Linked DNA regions of Homo sapiens: region 2 is linked to region 1. Evidence: fine-mapped expression QTL. Tissue or cell type: whole blood. Region 1 holds a variant in brackets; the other region holds the start of a gene. All regions are shown on one strand. Distances are from middle to middle.

Evidence for each region. PIP is the estimated chance that this variant, and not a neighbour inherited with it, causes the effect.
Region 2: MARCKS starts here. The variant in region 1 is fine-mapped to the expression of MARCKS in whole blood (INTERVAL, PIP 0.95).

The regions. Positions count from the first base shown.
Region 1 is chr6:113,442,564-113,447,851 of GRCh38, reverse strand. No RefSeq gene overlaps it. Among named protein-coding and RNA genes, the nearest start is that of LINC02518, 12 kb to the right of the region's middle. The variant G/A (reference allele first, on the strand shown) is at 2,773.
Region 2 is chr6:113,854,941-113,860,089 of GRCh38, reverse strand. MARCKS (myristoylated alanine rich protein kinase C substrate) reads right to left here and starts at 2,745. Exons shown (of 2, transcript NM_002356.7): 1 at 2,243-2,745; 2 at 1-407. The coding sequence starts at 2,344. RefSeq lists enhancers at 322-865, 2,664-2,713, 2,501-3,044, 3,045-3,590, 3,861-3,910 and 1 more and silencers at 869-1,198, 4,781-4,990.

The DNA.
Region 1 (5,288 bases):
CCTTTGGGAACTTTTGTGCTATTACCGTTAGTGTGAAATCAAATTGGTGACCAATATGTAGTCTAACAGTTGCTCTGTGACCATCAGTAATAATTTAGTGATGGAGTTCAAATCATAAGTGAAAACATTTTTCCCCCTCCAAGAACGTGAACCATACCTTCTTTCTTAACTTCTGAGCAGACTTGGTCTGTCTTACAAGAAAGACCTGTCTTTACTAGAGATGTGACTCATTAAAATAGAAACAGCTCTCCAATATGACAATTTAACACTCTTCCTCAGTACTGGATTTACTTGGAAAATGTACATCTTCAAATTCTTGGTCATGGAACATCTGAACAAGCACAAACACTTCTACAACCCATAATTGTTAGTTTAGACCATTAAAAAAAAGTGCATTTTTTTTTGTGGATTAAAGACTTAGACCTCAGGCATTGAGTCCCTTAAACCCCCACCACCAATCTAGCAGTCTTATATACAACATAAATTCTCATGCACTATAATTATTGTGGTCAATGATGCTAAACCAAGCACATAGTTTTTCCTCAAACACGTTCATAGGCAAGGAAAAAGTTGCCTTCATGACTCACTTTTAGAGACGAAGCAACAAGTTTGGGTCATGTGAGAGCTGACTCACTCTTTTTCTTCCCTTCCACATTTAAGATGGGTTCATAATAGGGGAAACTAAGTTAACTCTCCATTACCTTGATTGGGACTACATAAAGAGAAACCAAAAATTCGGCCAGAATTTTAAAATTCTGGGGATGTCTTTAAAATCAGTAGACTTCTTGCTTATCAAGTAGTTTATGTCCAGATACCTTCCAATGTAATGTAGTTTTTTGTTATTAACAGCTTTATGGAAGTATAATTTATGTATCTTAAAGTCTACCTATTATAAGTATACAATTCAATAATTTGTAATAAATTTATACAGCAGAGCTATCATCATCACATTCCAGTTTTAGGACATCTCCATTACCTCTAAAGTTTTCTTGTACTCATTTATAGTTAATCACTGCTTCCACATTCACCTCTAGGCTAATACTGATTTCTCTTCTTTTTATAAATTTGCTTTTTCTGAACATTTTATATAAATGAATTACAGAGTAATTATGCTTTTTGCACCTGACTTCTTCTTTGAGGTTAATTTACACTGTAGCATGTATGGTAGTGCTATCATTTTTATTGCTGAATAACCTTCCATTGTATGGATATGGCACTTAAAAAAGTCCATTTCCCAATTGATGGACATTTGAATTATTTCCAGTTTTTGGCTATTATGAATAATGCTGCTGTGAATATTTACCTACATGTCTCTGTGACAGGTTTTTATTTTTCTTACACATATTCCTAGGTATTGCTATGTCATATAGTAAGTGTGCATTTAAATTTTTAAAGTTTTATTTATTTTATAATTAATTTTAATTTGTATTTTAAGTTCCAGGGTACATGTTCAGGATATGCAGGTTCATTACATAGGTAGATGTGTGTAATGGCGTTTTGCTGTACCTGTCAAGACATCATCTAGGTATTAAGCCCAGCATGCATTAGCTATTTCCTGATACTTTCCCTCCCCTGACCCTACCCCCCAACAGGCCCCAATGTGTGTTGTCCCCCTCCCTGTGTCCATGTGTTCTCATTGTTCTGCTCCAGCTTATATGTGAGAACATGTGGTGTTTAGTTTTTTGTTCCTGCATTAATTTGCTGAGGATAACAGCTTCCAGCTCCATCCATGTCCCTGGAAAGGACATGATCTCGATCCTTTTTATGGCTGCATAGTATTCCATGGTGTATATGTACCACATTTTCTTTTTTTCTTTTCTTTTCTTTTCTTTTCTTTTTTTTCTTTTTCTTTTTTTTTTTTTTTGAGATGGAGTCTTACTCTGTCATCCAGGCTGGAGTGCAATGGCATGATCTTGGCTCACTGCAACCTCCACCTCCCAGGTTCAAGTGATTCTCCTACCTCAGCCCCCTGAGTAGCTGGGATTACAGGCATGTGCTACTGCACCTGGCTAATTTTTGTATTTTTAGTAGAGACGGGGTTTCACCATGTTGGCCAGGCTGGCCTTGAACTCCTGACCTCAGGTGATCTACCCATCTTGGCCTCTCAAAGTGTTGGGATTACAGGTATGAGCCACTGCACCCAGCCTGTACCACATTTTCTTTATCCAGTCTACAGTTGATAGGCATTTGGGTTGATTCCATTTCTTTGCTATTGTGAATAGTGCTGCACTGAGCAAACACGTGCATGTATCTTTGTAATAGAATGATTTATACTCCTTTAGGTATATGCTCAGTAATGGGATGTGGATCAAATAGTATTTCTGGTTCTAGATCTTTGAGGAATTGCCACATCATCTTCCACAATGGTTGAACTAATTTATATTCATACCAACAGTGTAAAAGCATTCCTATTTCCCCGCAACCTCGCCAGCATCTGTTATTTTTTGACTTTTTTATAATTGACTTTTTGACTGGCATGAGATGGTATCTCATTGTGGTTTTGATATGCATTTCTCTAATTAGCGATGTTGAGCATTTTTTCATGTTTCTTGGCTGCATGAATGTCTTCTTTTGAGCAATATCTGTTTATGTCCTTTGCCCACTTTTTAATGGCTTTTTTTTTTTGTAAATTTCTTTAAGTTCCTTGTAGATTCTGGATATTGGACCTTTGTCAGATGAACATTCCATGCTCATGGATAAGAAGAATTAATATCGTGAAAATAGCCATACTGCCGAAAGTAATTTATAAATTCAATGCTATTCCCATTAAAC[G/A]ACCATTGACATTCTTCACAGATTTAGAAGAAACTATTTTAAAATTCATATGGTACCAAAAAAGAACTCTTATAGCCAAGACAATCCTAAGCAAAAAGTAAGAAGCTGAAGGCATAACACTGCCAGACTTCAAACTACAACAAGGCTACAATAACCGAAACAGCATGGTACTGGCACAAAAACAGACATATAGACCAATAAAACAGAATAGAGAACTCAGAAATAAGACTGCACATCTACAACCATCTGATTTTCAACCCCTTCCTTACACCTTATATAAAAATTAACTCAAGATGGATTAAAGACTTAAATACAAAACCCAAAACTATAAAAACCCTAGAAGAAGGCTGGGCGCGGTTGCTCTCACCTGTAATGCCAGCACTTTGGGAGGCCAAGGTGGGCCGATCAGCTGAGGTCAGGAGTTTGAGACCACCCTGGCCAACATGGCAAAACCCTGTCTCTACTAAAAATACAAAAATTAGCTGGGCGTGGTGGTGCACGCTTGTAATCCCAGCTACTTGGGAGGCTGAGACAGGAGAATTGCTTGAGCTGGGGGAGCAGAGATTGGGGTGAGCCAAGATCTCACCACTGCACTCCAGTCAGCCAACAGGGTGAGACCCTGTCTCAAAAAAAGGAAAACAACAACAACAACAACAACAACAACAACAACAACAAAAAGCCCTAGAAAAAAATCTAGGCAATACCACTCAAGGCATAATCATGGGCAAGGATTTCATGATGAAATCACCGAAAGCGATTGCAACAAAAGTAAAAATTGACAAATGGGATCTAATTAAACTAAAGAGCTTTCTGTACAGCAAAAGAAACTGTTGTCAGAGTGAACAGGAAACCTACGGAGTGGTAGAAACTTTTTTTGTTTTTTCTTTGAGACTGTCTCACTCTGTCACCCAGGCTGGAGTGCAATGGCATGGTCTTGGCTCAAGCCAACGTCTGCCTCCCAGGTTCAAGTGATTCTCATGTCTCAGACTCCTGAGTAGCTGGGATTACAGACATGTGCCACCACACCTGGCTAATTTTTGTAATTTTAGTAGAGATGGGGTTTCACCATATTGGCCAGGCTGGTCTCGAACCCCTGACCCAAGTGATCCAACCGCCTTGGCCTCCCATAGTACTAGGATTACAGATGTGTGCCACCATGTCAGCCTTATTTATTTTTTAATTAGAGATGAGGTCTTGCTATGTTGCCTGGTATAAGTCCTTTATCAAATATATGATTTGCAAATATTTTCTTCTACTTTTTGGCTTTCCTTTTTTATTTTCAAAAATAAAGTGCAAGTGTCTTTAATTTTGAGGAGGTATAAAAGTTTTAAATTTTGATGAAGTCCAATTTGTTAGTTTTTTTCTTCTATGGATTGTGATTTTGGTGACTAAGAACTCTATCAGTAATGCAAAGGCATGAAGATTTTCTTCTATATTTTCTACTGGAAACTTTCTAGTTTACCTGTTCCATTTAGGTTTGTGATAAGTTTTGAGTTAGTTTTTGCATATTATATGAGATACCTTAATTCATTTGGGCTGGTATAACAAAATACTATTGATTGAGTTGCTTATCAACAACAGAAATGTTTTTCTGACAGTTCTGGGAGCTATGAAATCAAAGATCAAGGTGCCAGAGATTTCATATCTGGTGAGGGCCTGCTTTCTGATTCAGAGACGGTGGCCTTTTCACTGTAATCTCACATGGTGGGAGGGCCAAGGGAGTCTCTGAGGTCTCTTTTAGAAGGGCACTGCAGTAGTCCCTCCTTATCTACAGGGAATATGTTCCAAGACCCCTAGTAGATGCCTAAAACCATAGATAGTACTGAACCCCATATATATGATATATTTTCCTAACCCCCTACATACCTACAATAAAGTTTCATATATAAATTAGGCACAATAAGAGATTAACAATAACTAATAATAACTAATAATAAAATAACAATATAATTTAATAAAAATAAGGTGAATATGTCTCTCTCAAAAAATATCTGATTGTGTTGTACTGCTGGTAACTGAAACCGTGGAAAGCTAAACCATAGAAAATAGGGAACTACTATAATTCCATTTATAAGGGCTCCCCCTTTACAATCTAATCACCCCCTAAAGACTCCACATTCAAATCCTTCATGTTAGGGATTAGGGTTCAATATATGAAATTTGGAGAGATACAAATATTCATTTTATAACACACGAAGGTAATAGTTTTAAGGTTTTTTTTTCCAAATATTCTTTTCTGCATCTATTGAGATAATAAAGTGATGTTTGTCCTTTTTTCTACTGATATGGTATATTACATTAGTTGAATTGTATATTATGACCAAATGCATCCTAGGAATGTAAGTTGAGTTTAATATTGAAAATCAATTATGTGTTTCTAGATTCAGTTTGCTCATGTTTTGTTAAAGATTTTTTGTATCTGTGTTCATGAGAAATATTTGTGTACAATTTTTTTGTGATTATTTTTATTCTTTTGTTCAGCTTTTTATTTGCTTTCTGGGGGATAGAATTTGTGG
Region 2 (5,149 bases), 410 kb before region 1:
GAGAAGCCGCTCAGCTTGAAAGACTTCTTGAAGGAAAAGCGCTTCTTTTTTTTTTTCGGGGTCTCGTTGCTGGGCGAGGGCGTGGCCCCGTCCTCGGCCTTGGGCGAAGAAGTCGAGGAGGCGGCCGACGCGGCCTCTCCCTCCGCGGCCGTGGGCGAGCCGGGCTCGGCAGCCTCGCCTTCCGCGGGGGCCTCCTTCTCTACCGGGCTGGCCCCGGCCTCGGGGGCAGCGGCGGCGGCCGGCTCACCTTTCTCGGCCGCGGAGGGCGACGCCGCCCCGCTCCCGGCGGCCGCGGGCTCCTCCTTGTCGGCGGCCGGGGCGCTGCCGTTGGCCTGCAGCTCCTCCTTGGCGCCCGACTCGGCGGCCGCGGGCGAAGCGTCGCCGTTTACCTTCACGTGGCCATTCTCCTAAGGGGCAGAGAAAGCGGGAGCGTCACTGAAGCGGCCGGGGCGCCGCCATTCCCGCCCCCAGCCCTGGACCGGGAGTGCCCCGCTTCCCCCTAAGGCCCCTGTGGCCATCGAGACCCCACCCCCGCCGTTGTGGGGAGGGAGGCGCGGGTGGATGCCCAGAAGAGAGCCCCACGAACGAGGAAATGGGCACCGCTGCCTGGAGACCCCCCGAAAACACAACTGTAGCCCCCAAGTACGGCAATGGCCTCCCAGCCATTCAGCAAGTGCCCTAAAGACGAAGTCCGAAACGTAGCAAGCAAAGGCTAACCATGCCAGCCCTCGCTTTATCGGGGGCTTGGGGGAAAAAAGGTGCCAGGGACTAGTTGACACAGCAAACGCCCTTTGGAAGAAGGCACAGAGCCAGAGCTGGTGGTTCGCGCCTACGTTTCACATCCCTCTTTCGCCCTAAATACATAAAGGCCTCTTCAAAATACCAGGAATTCCCAGGGGGATCACAGCACTCGAGCCAGGAGCGCCCGCGCGGGGCCCTCCGAGCTCCTGCGCCCACCCAGGCCTTTGGCACCGGCAGGGGGCGCTGTGCCTCCACCGCGCCGCGTTGGGCGCAGGCAGGCGAGGAGGGGCGGAGTCGCCGGGCCACCCCGCCCTGCCCAGCCGGGCCCTGCCCGCAGGCCGAGGCGCCCCCGAGCCCGGATCGCGCAGCCCAACAGTCCGCAAACAAAGCTCAGGTGGTTTCCTGGCCTGCCGGTCGGGCTGAAACCAACAAGGCAGGGGGAAACCCATTATTTCTGAGGTCTCGCCTCTGCTTCCACGCCCACCTTCCCCTGCGATTCTGCGAAGCCTGGGCGCGCCTCGGCGGCTCATTTTGCATTTTTAACGGGTTTAAAGCCTCTTGGCAGACCTCGCTTTCCCCAGTAGGTTAGAGCAGGCGAAGCGACACGATCTCTTCTCTAGGAAAAGAGGCGTGGTGGGTGCCCAGTGTTTGCGAAGCAGCCACCCATGGCCGACCTCTCGGGTCCACCCAATCGTGGCTATCTGCCTGGGTCCGGGCAGCGCCGGGCGGCCCCTCGCGGGTGGTCGAGGCGCCACGCACAAGAACAATCCCGACCGAAAGGCACGAACCGCCTCTTTTTGACCATCTGGAAAGGTTCTTAAAGGACCCACCGAGTGTTCCCACCCCACAGATACCATTTAAAAATCAAATGGATGTGTAATTCCACAGACAGCTACGAATAAAGATTTAGGACAGTGGGAAAGCCTCATCAAAAGGTACCGAAGCCCTCTGTCTGGCCCCAGCCAGCCACCTTTCCAAGAACCCAGGGCACGCCGCCGCGGCATACAATAAGACAGCCTTTCCCTCCTCGCCTTTCTCCACCACCATCCCCATTGCGCCCCCCTTTCCCGACTCCCCCCCCCGCCACACACAATCACACCACCAGTTCAGAAATCTCGAAGACAATCCAGCTTCGACAACAAACCCGAGAGACACCCAAACACCATTGTGCCCCCAAACACAAATGAAACCTGGCTGGGGGCGGGGGAAGGAGGGCACCTAGCTAGTCACGTTCTGCCAATCTCCAAACCACGCCATTTTAGACGATTTATCACTCCTTTCCTCCCGTCTACTCAAGAATTCTCCAGGATTCTAAGGAACCACTCCTTTGGTGTGGGGGGACCCCGGCTATGAAAAATCCACAATTTAGGCTATCCATTTCCATTCAACTTTCAGACTAGAATCCAGCCACACTCCTCTCCACGAATGAGCCTTGGGAGCCACCAGGAGGGAAGGAGAGAAAGACACGAAATAAATGACCACAACCACAGGTAGAATTTACCTGTCCGTTCGCTTTGGAAGGCGACGAGGCCACAGCCGCCTCCCCAGGCCTCTCCGCGGCGGCTTCTCCCTTCGCTGCGGTCTTGGAGAACTGGGCACCCATGCTGGCTTCTTCAACAAAGAAACTCAACAGATCCAAGAGGGGAAACAAAGAGCCTCGGGTTGGTGTAACGACGGGGCGAGCAGCAGCAGCAGCGGCGGCGGCAACAGCGGCAGCGGCACACACACCGGAGGGAGGGGGGTGGGGGTGGTGGAGAGGACAGAACAGAACCGATTAAATACACTCCGGATAAAAAAATTTTAGTCGAAGAGATCAAAAAGCAGCAGCACAGGAGGGAGGGAAAAAGGGTGGAAAAGTCGAGCACAAAAAAAGGAGCCCAAGTGTAGTTCGAAAAAAAAAGAAGTAATAAAAAAATCCCAGATTTGTAGCCGCACTGTAGACAAGAGGAAAATGGAGAAATCTCCCTGGTTGCTAATAAGATGCGGGGTCCAACGCCCAAGTGCACAGATGAATGGGCTCGCGGGCGCTGACGCGGCCCCCGCGCGCGTCGGCCAATCCGCGCGCCGCACACAAAGCAGGGGGCGGGGTCTGCGCGCCTGGCGAACAATGGAGCCGCGCTTTGCAAACGGTTTGAAAATCAGCCTCAGACCGAGAATTAATGTCCTCCAAATAAATAAATCAATTAAAAAATACATGGCACTCGTCTCTCTCTGCTTGAAAATAATAATGCATTTCTTGATTGGCTTGCTTTGTTTGGAATTAATTAACACGGGAGGGGGGTACTTGTGCATCGGGGCGGAGAAAGCGTTAACTTGACTCGCATTGACTCTCGTCGGTCTATATCCGTGTGTCTCTCTCTCTCCACTCGCTCCCCTCCCCCATCTTTCCGTGTGTTTATGTGTATGTGTGTGTATGCGAGTGTTAAAGACAATGGTTGCGATTTGTGTGTTTGCAGCATGTTTTCTTTCTTTTTTCCATATTGGTTTTACAGATAATGCTCAGGGTTTGTTTTTTGAACTGCTGCAATGGTTAAATCGTCCCAAATTGAAAGGTATTTAAACCACGAAGATCGAATTTCATCAAGCGAGATCGCAAGTTAGAATTAGGTCTGTAGGCCAGATGTGGAAAATGCAAAAGCGGCAAACAGCGAAGCCACACTCCCTTCCCTCTCCCACATTGGCATGAAATAAAATATTTTGAGATTGGCCTTGGGCGCTCAACAAATTCCCCCTTCTCTGGCTATTCCCAATTAGTGATTTTTTTCCCCCACAATTCAAAGTGAGAGCCATTTACAGAAGATCGAAACTCTTCGCGTTTTATCACTGTTTTAAATGACATAATTTTCCTCTATGGTGAAATGAGACACAGCCTCGAGTAGACGAATCCATATTTACAGTTGGGATGTTATTCGCGTCAATATGGATCGTTTTCAGCCTACTGCCAGAATCGAATGGACTCTTTTTGAACGTGTGTGTGAGTGCGCACGCAGGCGAATGTGCTCCTGAAAGGAAGGGAGGCAGCAGCAACGATGACATTCTAAACCGGATTGCAGTTCTAAGGAGAAATGTTCTGTATGTTGAGAGATAGCAAGATCCCTGAGCTCTCCAAGTCTAACTTGGGTTAGAGGAAAACCTTCTATAATGGTACACAGGATACCTCCATCTGTCACTGCACTCCTTGCCACCGAAGTACCAGACGCTTTTTGTGCGTGAGAGACAAGGCACTGACTTAAAGTATGAGGGGTGAGGGGAACCAAGGAAACAGCTTAATAAGCATTTTCTTCCCAAAGTTTTCACTCGTGGCAAAATCAGACCACCTTTTCTCGTTTACATTTGGTGATCTTGCAAGGAATAATCTTTCGCTTATGAAGGTGAGAAGCAGTCGAGGGAATGGTTCATTTCTCCTGGTGCTGGCTCTGAATTCTCAAACAGTTTTATTTTCTGCTCATTGTAGGGAAATAGGTCACACTCTGAGTGAAAAAGACGGTTGGTTCAAGCCAGTAACTCTTTGTTCAAGCGTTGCTTTAAAAATCACCAAGCTGAACATTGTTACGTGAAGCTTCGTCTTCTCACTGTCCAGTTCCTTCAGATGCATTATTCGACCATGGTCATATTCCCCAGAGCTGATGTAAAGACGTTTCCGTAGAAATGCATCTTGCCAGCAAACGTGTTATTACCCTTAAGAGAGCCCGCTGGCCTGGCCCACGACCCCAGCCGCCAGGATGGACGCAAATCCCTTGTATTAGCAGTTCCAACTTGAAAAGCCAACTGGGCTGATCCGACACCACCATCCAGGCGATTCCCAAAAGCCCATTTAAGGCTCTTGATTTCCCCCCACCCCCAACGTGAATCATGCCCCTTCCTCCGCATCCCCCTCCTATTTTAAATTGGGGTGACTGCTAGCTCGCTTTCAGATTTTCTCCCAGACGCGTCCTTAGCCCTCCATTTGGGGGCTGCTTTTATTGCTCCTTTGTTACCAGGCTGCCGTGTAGCTTTCCCCCCTTTTCTTTCTGGTACGCCTATTTGCCTGGTATCGGCTGGTCTCCCTGGCAACGGCCGGGGAAGATTCGGAGCACTGGGCCGGGGAGGGGGAAGAGGCGGAGCCGGCGCTGGGGGGTGACGGTGGGGGAGACGGGGGCTGGGAGTGGTGGAGGGGAGAGGGGCCGAGTGAGAGACTGGGAGACAGACTGCGAAGCAGATGGCCGCGCGAGGGGGCGGGGTGCGGGCGGGGTGCGGGCGGGGCGCGGCGGGGGGACAGTCCCAGCGTCAGGGGCGCAAGGGAGCCAATCAATTCCCGCAGCAGCTCCGGGGCAAAAAAAAAAAAAAAAAAAAAAAAAAGTGTAAACACATAGATTCCCTCCCCACGAGCGGTCTCGGTCTCTAGTTTACAGTAGAAAGATGATTTCTT